Linked DNA regions of Homo sapiens: region 2 is linked to region 1. Evidence: fine-mapped expression QTL. A gene starts in region 1. The other region holds a variant in brackets. All regions are shown on one strand. Distances are from middle to middle.

Region 1 (5,387 bases):
TCAAATACAAAATATATTTCTATTCAAACACATGTTACTAGGGAATGGTTATTTATGTACAAGTTAGTCAAGTCTCAGCAGGGATTTTCTGAGAACCTACTACTTCAAGTTCAGCATAGGAATACCAAGATAAGACTAGGTTCTTCAGAATTTCAGGGTCTTTCTGGGGAGAGAAATAGGCAGGTATCTCCAGTAGTATTTGGGCAATGTTATAAGAGGTATGTTCAAAGGACTGTGGGAGCACTGAGAATTATGAACCAACTGTATGGGGACTGAAACTACATGAGGTTAGGTTTAATTTTGGGTAGCCCACAGATAGGCACAGAATAGACATAAGTTAACATTTGTTAAATTCGATGACATAAATAGTAGCTACCTTCAATTTGGAGGCAGTAAAATTGTCTAGATTAAGGGAGCAAGTTGGGGAAAACCACTAACTGAAAATCTGAGCAATTAAATTCATTTGGGACTAGCTTCTGAATTTCTTCTCAATTTAATACAATCATTCAACAATACTTACTGAGCATTTACTATGCACAGGCACAGGGCTAGGTGCTGGCGATGTGATGAACAGCATAGAGATGTTCTTCCGAATAAGTCTAAGTCACTGTATTCCAGAAGCAATGCCAGGAGGATGCCCTAGAAGTCACCTTCAGTAACAGACAGATAACTAAACTCATTACTACTTTTGATTCCTGCCTTTTGGTCCTGTGTTCAGGAAACAGCTCCAGGCAGATTTGTGCTGAAAGGGATAGTTTAAAATTTTATGAGATATTTCAGACACATAAGGAGGGAAAAGCTAGTTTTGGGAAATTTTTTTTTTAAGAAATATTTCCCTGTTGTCTGATGGACGTATTTCCCCCACCCTGTTTTTGGTCACCTTAATGATTCAATTGGTGGTTTCTAAATGAGTGCCCACTATGTGTCAGACACTCTCCAAGGCACTGCAGATATAAAAATGAATGCATTCTTATCCCTGCTGTCGCGGACCTCACATTCTGGCAGAGGAGACGAATGGCAGCATAAGACAACCGGTATTTGCATAAGGCGCTGAAGGAGCATAACGAAAGGAGAAAGTCTGGAAGCCATTGTCCAACCCTTGGTTTCCTGAAGTAAAAATGATTTCAACACTAACACGTGAAAATGCGGAAATCCTAGCTGCATTTTGGAGTGTCACCACTCTTGAAATAAAGCCTCATAGGTTCAGAAAATGTGATCAGAGCTGTTAATATTTTGATTCTGGGTGACTAAGAAGTGACAGGTGTGTAGCCTGAGAAAGCCACCCAAGCCCATTTACAGGCATGTGGAGACAAGCAATGTTGAGTCAGGGTGCAGGGTACACCCCAGCTCTATCGGCAGGACAGGTACCTGAGCAGGGGACTTTTAAAATCTTCTGTTGAGAGCTACTAACCCATCAGAAGAAAATCAGTCAAGAACTAAATGACAGTGAAACTTGACACAAAAATTTCCATATCGGATTTTTAAAAAAATGATTGTTGATCTCAACAAACAGCCCACTCCTACTTTTTGAGAAGCATTAACCAGCACAAGTTTGTACTTAGTAAACTAGATGTAAGTTGTTTTCAATACAATTGACATATCTGGCTGGGGGGTGGGGTGGAGAAAGGAAGGGGAAGCACCTGGATGTTGATACAGTACTAGGCATAGAAGGAACCAGAGTGGGAGATTAACACTTGCATAGAAAGAAGAAAACATTAGGAGAAGTGGTGGGGAGAAATGGAGTGAGGAAAAGAGATAAAAGTTGAGAGGTGTGGTAGTTTCTACACTGCAAGGGTTCCAAGGGGTATCACTGCAGGCTGGCCTTCCCATCCTTGATAGAGACACATAAAAACCAGCTCAAGCATGCAGAGAAAACAGGTAACTTCTTCAATGAGCAGATTTGTATAATTATTACTTACCGTTTAGTGTAAAAATATTAAAATCTCACTGCAGGTTTCTCAGTACAGAATTAAAATACTTACACTAGAATTACTCAGGGTGACTGTTTAAAACAATGTAAATTGTGAGCTAGTTCCATCACAGACCTACTGAATCAGATCTTCTGGTGGGAGTAAGATAATGTGAATTTTTAATACGCTCCGCAGTGATTCACATACACAGTAAACTTTGACAAGACTGTACAGAATGGGAGTCTCTGAGAGCAGGGAGTATGTCCTATTTGTCTCAGCACTCATAGAATCTAGCACGGGGATTGGGAGAGTGAGAGCTCAATAAAAGTTTATTGAACTAAACTGAATACACCTAATATACCTAAGAGTCTTTAAAGCAAAAGTCACTCAATTCCACTACCCTGTAATCCATTTTTTCCATATTCTAGTCTATGTACACAGGTTTTACACTGTTGTAATTGCAAACTCACCATTTTAGATTGTATTTTTCAATATATTTTCTCTTACAATTTTTAATGGCTGTAAAACATTCCACCCAACATGAATAAGTATCTCTGTTCATATAGATTTTGAGTTTTGAAAAGGTTTTCCTTAGGGGACCTTACATTTGTGCAGTGCTTGTCAGTTTATGAAACCCTTTCACACAATCTTCATTGCTTTCACAACACTCTGTAAGATAAGCATTATCCTCATTTTGCAGCTGGGTATACAGACTCAAAGATTAATTAACTTGCTCAAGCTTCTACACCTAGTAAGTGGAATGTCAGATTAAACCAGGATCTTCTCACTATGCATTTAATGCCCTTTCCAAGGCACCAAATAATTGGACCCAACAGTTTCCTGATGCAAAAACCTGTAATTTAAAATGTGGCAGATGGAAATTACATTTAAAGAGAACATTGGTCAGCTATATCCTAACTATATAGGAATCAGCTCCTGCCTCTTGGGGTATGGCAAAGAAAATGCATATATTAGTTGACAACTTCTGTGTAAGAACTTACTGTTCTTCAGCAATGCCTCATAACGCTGTCTGTATACGATCCAAGCCCATTTCTGCAATCCTCACATGAAGGGAGTTGGGACTGTCCCTGAACACTCTGACACTGTAATTAAAGTTCTTCGGCAACCACCACAGGCTGTAAGGCAGATAGGAAGGAGGCAGTGGAGACTTGAAAGCTCTTCTAAGATTGGTATCACAGGAAACTTGGGTAGCAGCTGAGTGAACAGGAGAGGGAAGCTTTTATGTACCAATAGAAATGCCCATTATAAGGACACACGACCTGATGAATAACAGAGGGGTGCAGCACTTCAGGGAAGGACAGACAGTCCACCTGAGCAGTTAGAGGTTCTATACTGGAAAACAGGAGGAGTTGTGTTTCTATTTTATTCCATTTGCATGATACAGAGAGACAGGTTTCCTTATTCTCAGGTAGAAGTTTCTAACAACCAGAGCTCTCTGAGGAGAGAAAAACTTCTTGGCTGGGTGTGGTGGCTCAAACTTGTAATCCCAGCACTTTGGGAGGCTGAGGGAAGCGGACTACTTGAGCCCATGAGTTTAAGACCAGCCTGGGCAACAAAGTGAGACCCTGTCTCTATAAAAAATTAGCTAGATGTGGTGGCACATACCTGTGATCCCAGCTACATGGGAGGCTGAGGATTGCTTGGGCCCAGGAGGTCGAGGCTGCATTGAGCCATGTACACATCACTGCACTTAAGCCTGAGCGACAAAGCAAGACCGTTTCCAAAAAATAAGGCTAGGCACAGTGGCTCATGCCTGTAATCCCTGCCCTTTCAGAGGCCAAAGTGGGAGGACTGCTTGAGCCCAGGAGTTCAAGACCAGCCTGGGCAACATGGCAAAACCCTGTCTCTACAAAAAATACAAAAATTAGCTGGGTGTGGTGGCTTGTGCCTGTGGTCCCAGCTACGTGGGAGGCTGAGGCAGAAGGATCACTTGAGCCTGGGAGGCTGAGGCTGCAGTGAGCTGTGATCACGTCACTGCACTCTAGCCTGAGTGAGAGAGTAAGACCCTGTCTCTAAATAAATAAATAAATAAATAAATAAATAAAAGATCTCTATTAAGATAGTGAGTTCCTATTCAGTGAAGCTACAATAGGTAAATTACTAGGAATCAGGAGAAATACAGAGGGGAGTAGTTCATATATCATAAACGGGAAGAATTATCTTCTTTCCAAGATTTTTCAAAACTAGGTTCCTAGGAAAATGGCAAACCAGCAATTCTTATTGAGCTAGTGTGTAGAGAAAGTTATGAATCAAAGAATCACAGTTGTAGATGGCTCAGGTTCGGCAAAATACAGTTCCAGCTGTGTACATGGGCACCTGTTGCAGAAAAAAAACCTTTGTTACACAGGCTCACCATGTATCTATTTTCAGATTATTACCTTGAAAAATCAAAGGTCTGTGACTTCGAGGAAGATATTAATAATTCCTATCAAAGTTTCTTTCATGTATCTTTCTATCCACAATTCAAAGATGATCCTAAAAGGAAGGTGGCAAATGTGAGTATAAACTGATAACAAATTGAGGCACAATGAGCTTAAGTACATTGCTGGGTCTAGGATCCTTTACCCCATTTTTAGTGTTTCTCTTTACTCCAATGTATTTGAGATCAAACATCATCTTCCTTCACATTCTCCTGTCCCTTCACCCTGGGTAGAACAAGGTCAAGGTGAGTATTTTGCGACACATTCAGTAAACTCTGGGGCTTAAGATGCAAGATTCTTTGGTTATTAGGTTTTATGTTTTTTGGTTTCTCTGGAAGCTGAGGGCAGTGAATTTTATTTGCAGTCTTTCTCTCAGTATTAGGAACTTTCGATTTTTTTTTTTTTTTTTTTTGAGACAGAGTCTCGCTCTTTTGCCTAGGCTGGAGTGCAGTGGTGTGATCTCGGCTGACTGCAAGTTCCGCCTCCCGGGTTCATGCCATTCTCCTGCCTCAGCCTCCTGAGTAAGCTGGGACTACAGGCGCCTGCCACCACACCCGGCTAATTTTTTTTTTTTTTTTTTTTTTTTTTTTTTTGTAGAGACAGGGTTTCACCGTGTTAGCCAGGATGGTCTCAATCTCCTGACCTTGTGATCTGCCGGCCTTGGCCTCCCAAAAGGAACTTTGAATTTTTATAACAAATAAACCAAATAAATTTCATGACCAGTAAGATACAAAGGAACAAAGTCCACAATGTATTGTCTTGATAACTAAGAAAATAAGATACATGAAACATGTTTGTGAACTGTAAAGCAATGCCTAAATAATAGTCATGTTATTAGTAACAATTATGAACAGTAAAGGTATAGCAGAAAATTTTTGAAAAGTCATGAGCTATGTTAATTCAATGACCAGCTGCCTGAATGACAGTTTAAAAACCACCTAAACTCCTGGTGTCTTCTTTATAAAGGTCCCCCAGAAACTATCCAGTGTGCTGATAATGGCTAGAAATTCGCTGGACTCCATTTATGGTAATGCTG
Region 2 (5,387 bases), 67 kb before region 1:
GTGCGTTGAATGGTCCCTTCCCAAAAGATATGCCCATGTCCTAATCCCTGGAACCTGTGAATATTACCTTATATGACATAAAATGTGATTAAGTTAAAGGTCTCAGACCCTTAGGCCATATAAGATAATATTCATAGGCAGCACTTCTCTTGGAGAATTCAGGGAAACTCTAAATGTAATCATATGTATCCATATAAGACAGAGATAGAGGAAGAACAGACAGAGGGACAGAAGAGAGAGGAGGAAGAGACAGTGTGACCATGGGCAGAGATTGGAGTGATGCAACCATGAACCAAGGAACATCTGGAGCCACCGGAAGCCAAAAGAGGCAAAAGATTTTCCCCAGTGCTTTCAGAAGGAACACAGCGCTGTAACACCTGGATTTATTCTCTCCTGAACTGTAAGACGATAAATCTCTATTGTCTTAAGCCAACAAATTTGTAGTCATTTGTTACAGCAACTACAAGAAACTACTAAGGGCCTGGCATGATAGCTCAAGCCTGTGATCCTAGCATTTTGGGAGGCCAAAGCTGGCACAGTACTTGAGACCAGCCTGGACAATATGACGAAGCCCTGTTTCTGTATTTAAAAAAAAAAAAAAGAAGAAGAGGAGGAGGAAAGAAAAAAGAAACTAATACAGAGAGTAAATATACTGCTATACTTTAGGCCAAATTAAAAAATTAAAATGTATGTGCTGATAAAGAGCTCAAATCTCCCTAAATGAATTTATTAATTTAACATAAACTCAGTAAAAACACCATTTTTTTGGCCAGGTGTGGTGGCTCATGCCTGTAATCACAGCACTTTGGGAGGCTGAGGCAGGTGGATCGCCTGAGGTCAGGAGTTTGAGACCAGCCTGGCCAACATGGCGAAAACCTGTCTGTACTAAAAATACAAAAATTAGCTGGGGGTGGTAGCATGTCCCTGTTAATCCCAGCTACTCAGGAGGCTGAGGCTGGAGAATCGCTTGAACTTAGGAGGCGGCAGTTGCAGTGAGCCAAGATCTTGTCACTGCAGTCCAACCTGGGCAACAGAGCAAAACTTCGTCTCAAAGAAAAACAACAACAACAACAACAACAAAAAACCCACCATATTTGTTCTAAATAAGAGAATACAATTGTAAAGTTCATAAAGAAAAACAAGAATAGCAGAGGACACTATTACAACCATATGGTAAAACACACCTCATTAATCAAAACAAAGCGTATTGCTATATATATTTTATAAGTATACAGACTAATGGAATTTAATACTTAGTGAGTTCACAAATGGTTACTAATGCATAAAATGCTTAGATTATGATAGAAGTAGCACCTCAAATCCATGGGAAAGATTTAATGACACTGTTAAAAATAAAGCTGAAACAAAGTTGAACCTGTACCTCTAAGCATAGATCAGGAAAAATTCCAACTGGATCAGATTTAAATGTAATATAAAATGAAATTATAAAACATAGTACATTTCTTTTATAGCCTATAAGAGGGAAAGTCTATTACCTAAAATCCAGAAACCATAACAATGATTGTTATAGTGACTACACAGAAACCTATAAATCTAAAAATGAAAACTATTTTCAAATCCTGCATGGCAACACGGACACACCCCCCCACACCCACACAAATGCCTATGGACAAAGCAAGGAAAAAAATGGTAACTTGGGTTAGAAGTCATAAATATTTCGCTAAAATTCACAATTCCTATTACAAAGGGCTAATCTCCTACATAAAGAGCTCCTACAAATCAGTAAGAACATTAACCCTGCAGAAAAATAAGCAAATGTTCACAGACAAATAACTATAAATGATTTTTAAACATGTGAAAAGATCAATGTTGACTTACAAAAGGAATACAAATTAAAAATACACTTAAATATTACTTTTCTCTCATTAGACTGGCAAACATACAGAACTTTGGTAATCATCTTGGCAAGACTGTGGAAAAAGAGGCAGGAGTGTAAATAGTTACAAACCCTCTGGAGAGCAATGTGGCAAAATTACATATAATCTACCAAAAGTGTAAGAGTATATATCCTTTAACCAGGCAATGCCAGAAACTTATCCTAGAGATAAACTAACATGTGCACAATGACATATGTGCATTTTGGGATCTATTTAAAAGAGTAATATTGAAAACAATGTAAATGCTCATCAGTAAAGACTTAGTTATGCCTTCACCAATTGATGTACTACCACTCAGCTGCTTTTTAAAAAGGCATGGGGAAGAAAACTGTTCATGTATCAATATGGAAAGAGCATCAAGATATATTATGAAGTAAAAAAAAAAAAAGCAAGTATAGAGAAAGTTGTCCTTTATTTGTATAAATGGAGGAGTTAATACGTATTTGTATGCGTATTTATAATCTCTATTAGATATATTCTAACATATCTAATATGTTAACAGGCCAACATACATTATAAAGATAAATACACCAGGTTATTAGAAATGAGCAGATGGTGGCAGAAGGATAGAGAAGAGACTTCTCACAGTATACTTTTCAAATATTTTGTGTTTAAGCCATGTGCATGTATTATCTATTAAATTTAAACATTTTAATAAGTATGCATAATAAAATACCTAGAGTAACTTCTAATGAAGTAGTTAGAGTGTAACTTCCAAATAAGCAGAGGGATAAAAAGGAAATTAGAAAAAGGAAACAAAATGTTCAATCCAAAAGGTAAGA[T/C]TAAAAAAAACAACAGAAAATTTCAGTGTAAGGTAAGGTACAACACTACACGGTTGCAACAAATCAAAACATTTCCATAATCACAATAAATGTAAATCAATTTAATTCACCATTTAAAAGATAAAGCCTGTCTCACTGTATTAACCACAATAAATGTGAATTAACTAAATTCTCAAGTTAAAAGAAAGACTTTCCAGACTAAACAAAAACATAATCTAGCTACATACTGTTTTTTAAAGATACACCTAAAATACAAGAGCACAGGTAGGTTGAAATCAAAGGATGGAAAAAATTACATAAAGCATATACATTACTCAAAAGAATGCTGCTGCAGGTATATGACTACCAAGCAAAAAAAGATATTAAGGTAAAAAGGCAAAGAGGGTCAGGCACTTCACAAAGATAAGAGGTTCAAAGGCCCAGAAGTCATGTACTTCTAAAAAGTATGTGTACCTAGTAATATGGCCTCGAAATATATAAAGCAAGAATTGCCATTACTATAAGTAGAAAGTGACAAGTCCATTACATAATGGGAGATTTTTAAACAACCTCCCAGTAACTAATATAAAAAAGATGAGGCTCCTTTTGCCAACTCAAGTTAACCTTCCTTGGAACTAGATCACCATATCAGATACACAATTTCTTACTTAATTCCTAAGAAAATTAATCAGAACGGAAAGACATTCTTCCTGTCTGGTTCTGGTGACCAGTATTCAAACACAGAAATGAGAAGTTACACATGAGCTGCATAAGCAACCACATAGCTAGAGACTAACACTAATGGCTTTGTCAGCAATTCTGTGTGCTTATGCTTCAATTAATCTCTAAATTCCTCAAGGGAAGATGTTGGTCTCTTACACACATTTGTATCACTTCCCATACCTACCACACTGCCTGGTATATAGTAGGTGCTCAATAAATGTTTTATGAGTCATCTACTAAAATACTCCTCTTAAAAATATGTATTCTCTCCAACATCTATGAAGCACCTATTACATACCAGGTACTGTGTTAAGTACTGAGAATACACAGATGAATAAAAATGTCTGCTTTCCAGGGGACCACAACCTAGTAAAAGATAAATAGAAATATATTTTCTTTTTTTTTTTTTTTTGAGACAGGGTCTCACTTTGTTGCCAAGGCTGAAGTGCAGTGGGACACCCACAGCTCACTGCAGTCTTCACCTCCCAGGCTTAGGCAATCCTCTCACTTCAGCCTCCCAAGTAGTTGGGACTATAGGCACGCACTACTATGACCCTGCTAATTTTTGTATTTTTTGTAGAGATGGGGTTTTGCCACGTTGCCTAGACTGGTCTCGAATTTCCAAGCACAAAATCCACCCACCTCAGCCTCCCAAACTGCTGGAAATGTAGGCATGAGCCACTGTGCCTGGCTTAGAAATACATTTTCTTAAAAAGCTGTAAGTAGAGTTTTAAATGGAGTGGTAGATATACAAGCCCAGTGAAAGTACCCACAGACCTAAGGGAAAGGTTCTCACCCATTTAACATATATTTATAAGCACTTACTGTATGCCAGAATCAGGTAGGTGTTAAGAAGAGATATTTGAGTTAATTCTTGTCAAGCAGATGTGGGGTTGAAGTCAGACAGAAGGTACTAAGGGCAATGAGAAAAAAGAATGTAAGGTCCAGGAGAAAAATGTGATTTGCTTGAAGTCAAAGAGCTTGGATAAAGACTAGAACCTACATTCCCTAGTGTCCTTTCCACATTGCTTCTGGAATTCCTGGCCTCAAGCTATCCTCCCACCTCCGCCTCCCAAAGTACTGAGAATATAGGCATGAACCACCGCATGTGGCTCCCACATTGCTTCTCTACACTCCTTCCCCTTAGAACCATCTTTACTCCAATACAGATTCCTATCTAGGTCAATGGATTTTGACAAAAATTCAGTAAGAAATGTCTTTTAAATTGTAGCACAGTATCTATAAATACAATGAACTTAAAAGTTTCAATAAATATCCTTAACTGGACACAATACATGCTACTTTTTGTATACTATTTTACTTTGAAAATACTGGTAGCAACTCATTACCATTGATTTCATCACCTACGAATAGAGCTCAATCCCCATTTTGTAAAATGCTTATTGCTTGCAGTGGTTATTCTACCTCTAGCTTCTCACTTAATAGCCATCCCCCCAAATTCCTCTCCAAACATATTACTAACAACTATGATAGCAAATGCTGTGATAGGCCTTGAGTTTGCTATATGTGTTTAAGTTCTTCAAAAAAGCATAAACCAGGGATTTTATCAAACTTTCCTGAGAAATTTTCCCCAAACTATACATATTTACTACATATCTACTGATATCAGAAGATTCAGTAGATACAGAGTGAGATTTGGACATATGTAATGTTGGGAAAAGCTTCCCAGGTAATAGCACCTTTTTAAAAATATATATATATACGTCTATATAGTATTTTGCAAGTAGGTGGCAATGCTATGCTTGAAATACAAGGGTGGGAATGGCTGCAGTCATTTTTTTTATTTCAACAGGGTTTTGGGGAACAGGTGTTATTTGGTTACATGAATAAGATCTTTAGTGGTGACTTCTGAGATTTTAGTGTACCTGTCACCCCAAGGTGATAGCAACTTAATGATCTGAGGTCCCTTCCACTGTTATGAAACAAATATTTGTGTAGGAAAAGGAGTCTGGTAACGGACTAGACACAGACAAGAAAATGAAAT

The links. PIP is the estimated chance that this variant, and not a neighbour inherited with it, causes the effect. A credible set is the group of variants that fine-mapping cannot tell apart.
Region 2: its variant is the best candidate, but not a certain one, in a credible set for the expression of LINC02728 in whole blood (INTERVAL, PIP 0.67).

Annotation. Positions count from the first base shown.
Region 1 is chr11:78,426,789-78,432,175 of GRCh38, forward strand. It overlaps LINC02728 (long intergenic non-protein coding RNA 2728), which reads right to left and starts at 3,048. Exons shown (of 4, transcript NR_120564.1): 1 at 2,912-3,048; 2 at 521-742. RefSeq lists an enhancer at 327-526.
Region 2 is chr11:78,359,809-78,365,195 of GRCh38, forward strand. The region is part of intron 1 of GAB2 (GRB2 associated binding protein 2); the gene reads right to left. Among named protein-coding and RNA genes, the nearest start is that of GAB2, 55 kb to the right of the region's middle. RefSeq lists an enhancer at 5,308-5,387. The variant T/C (reference allele first, on the strand shown) is at 2,681.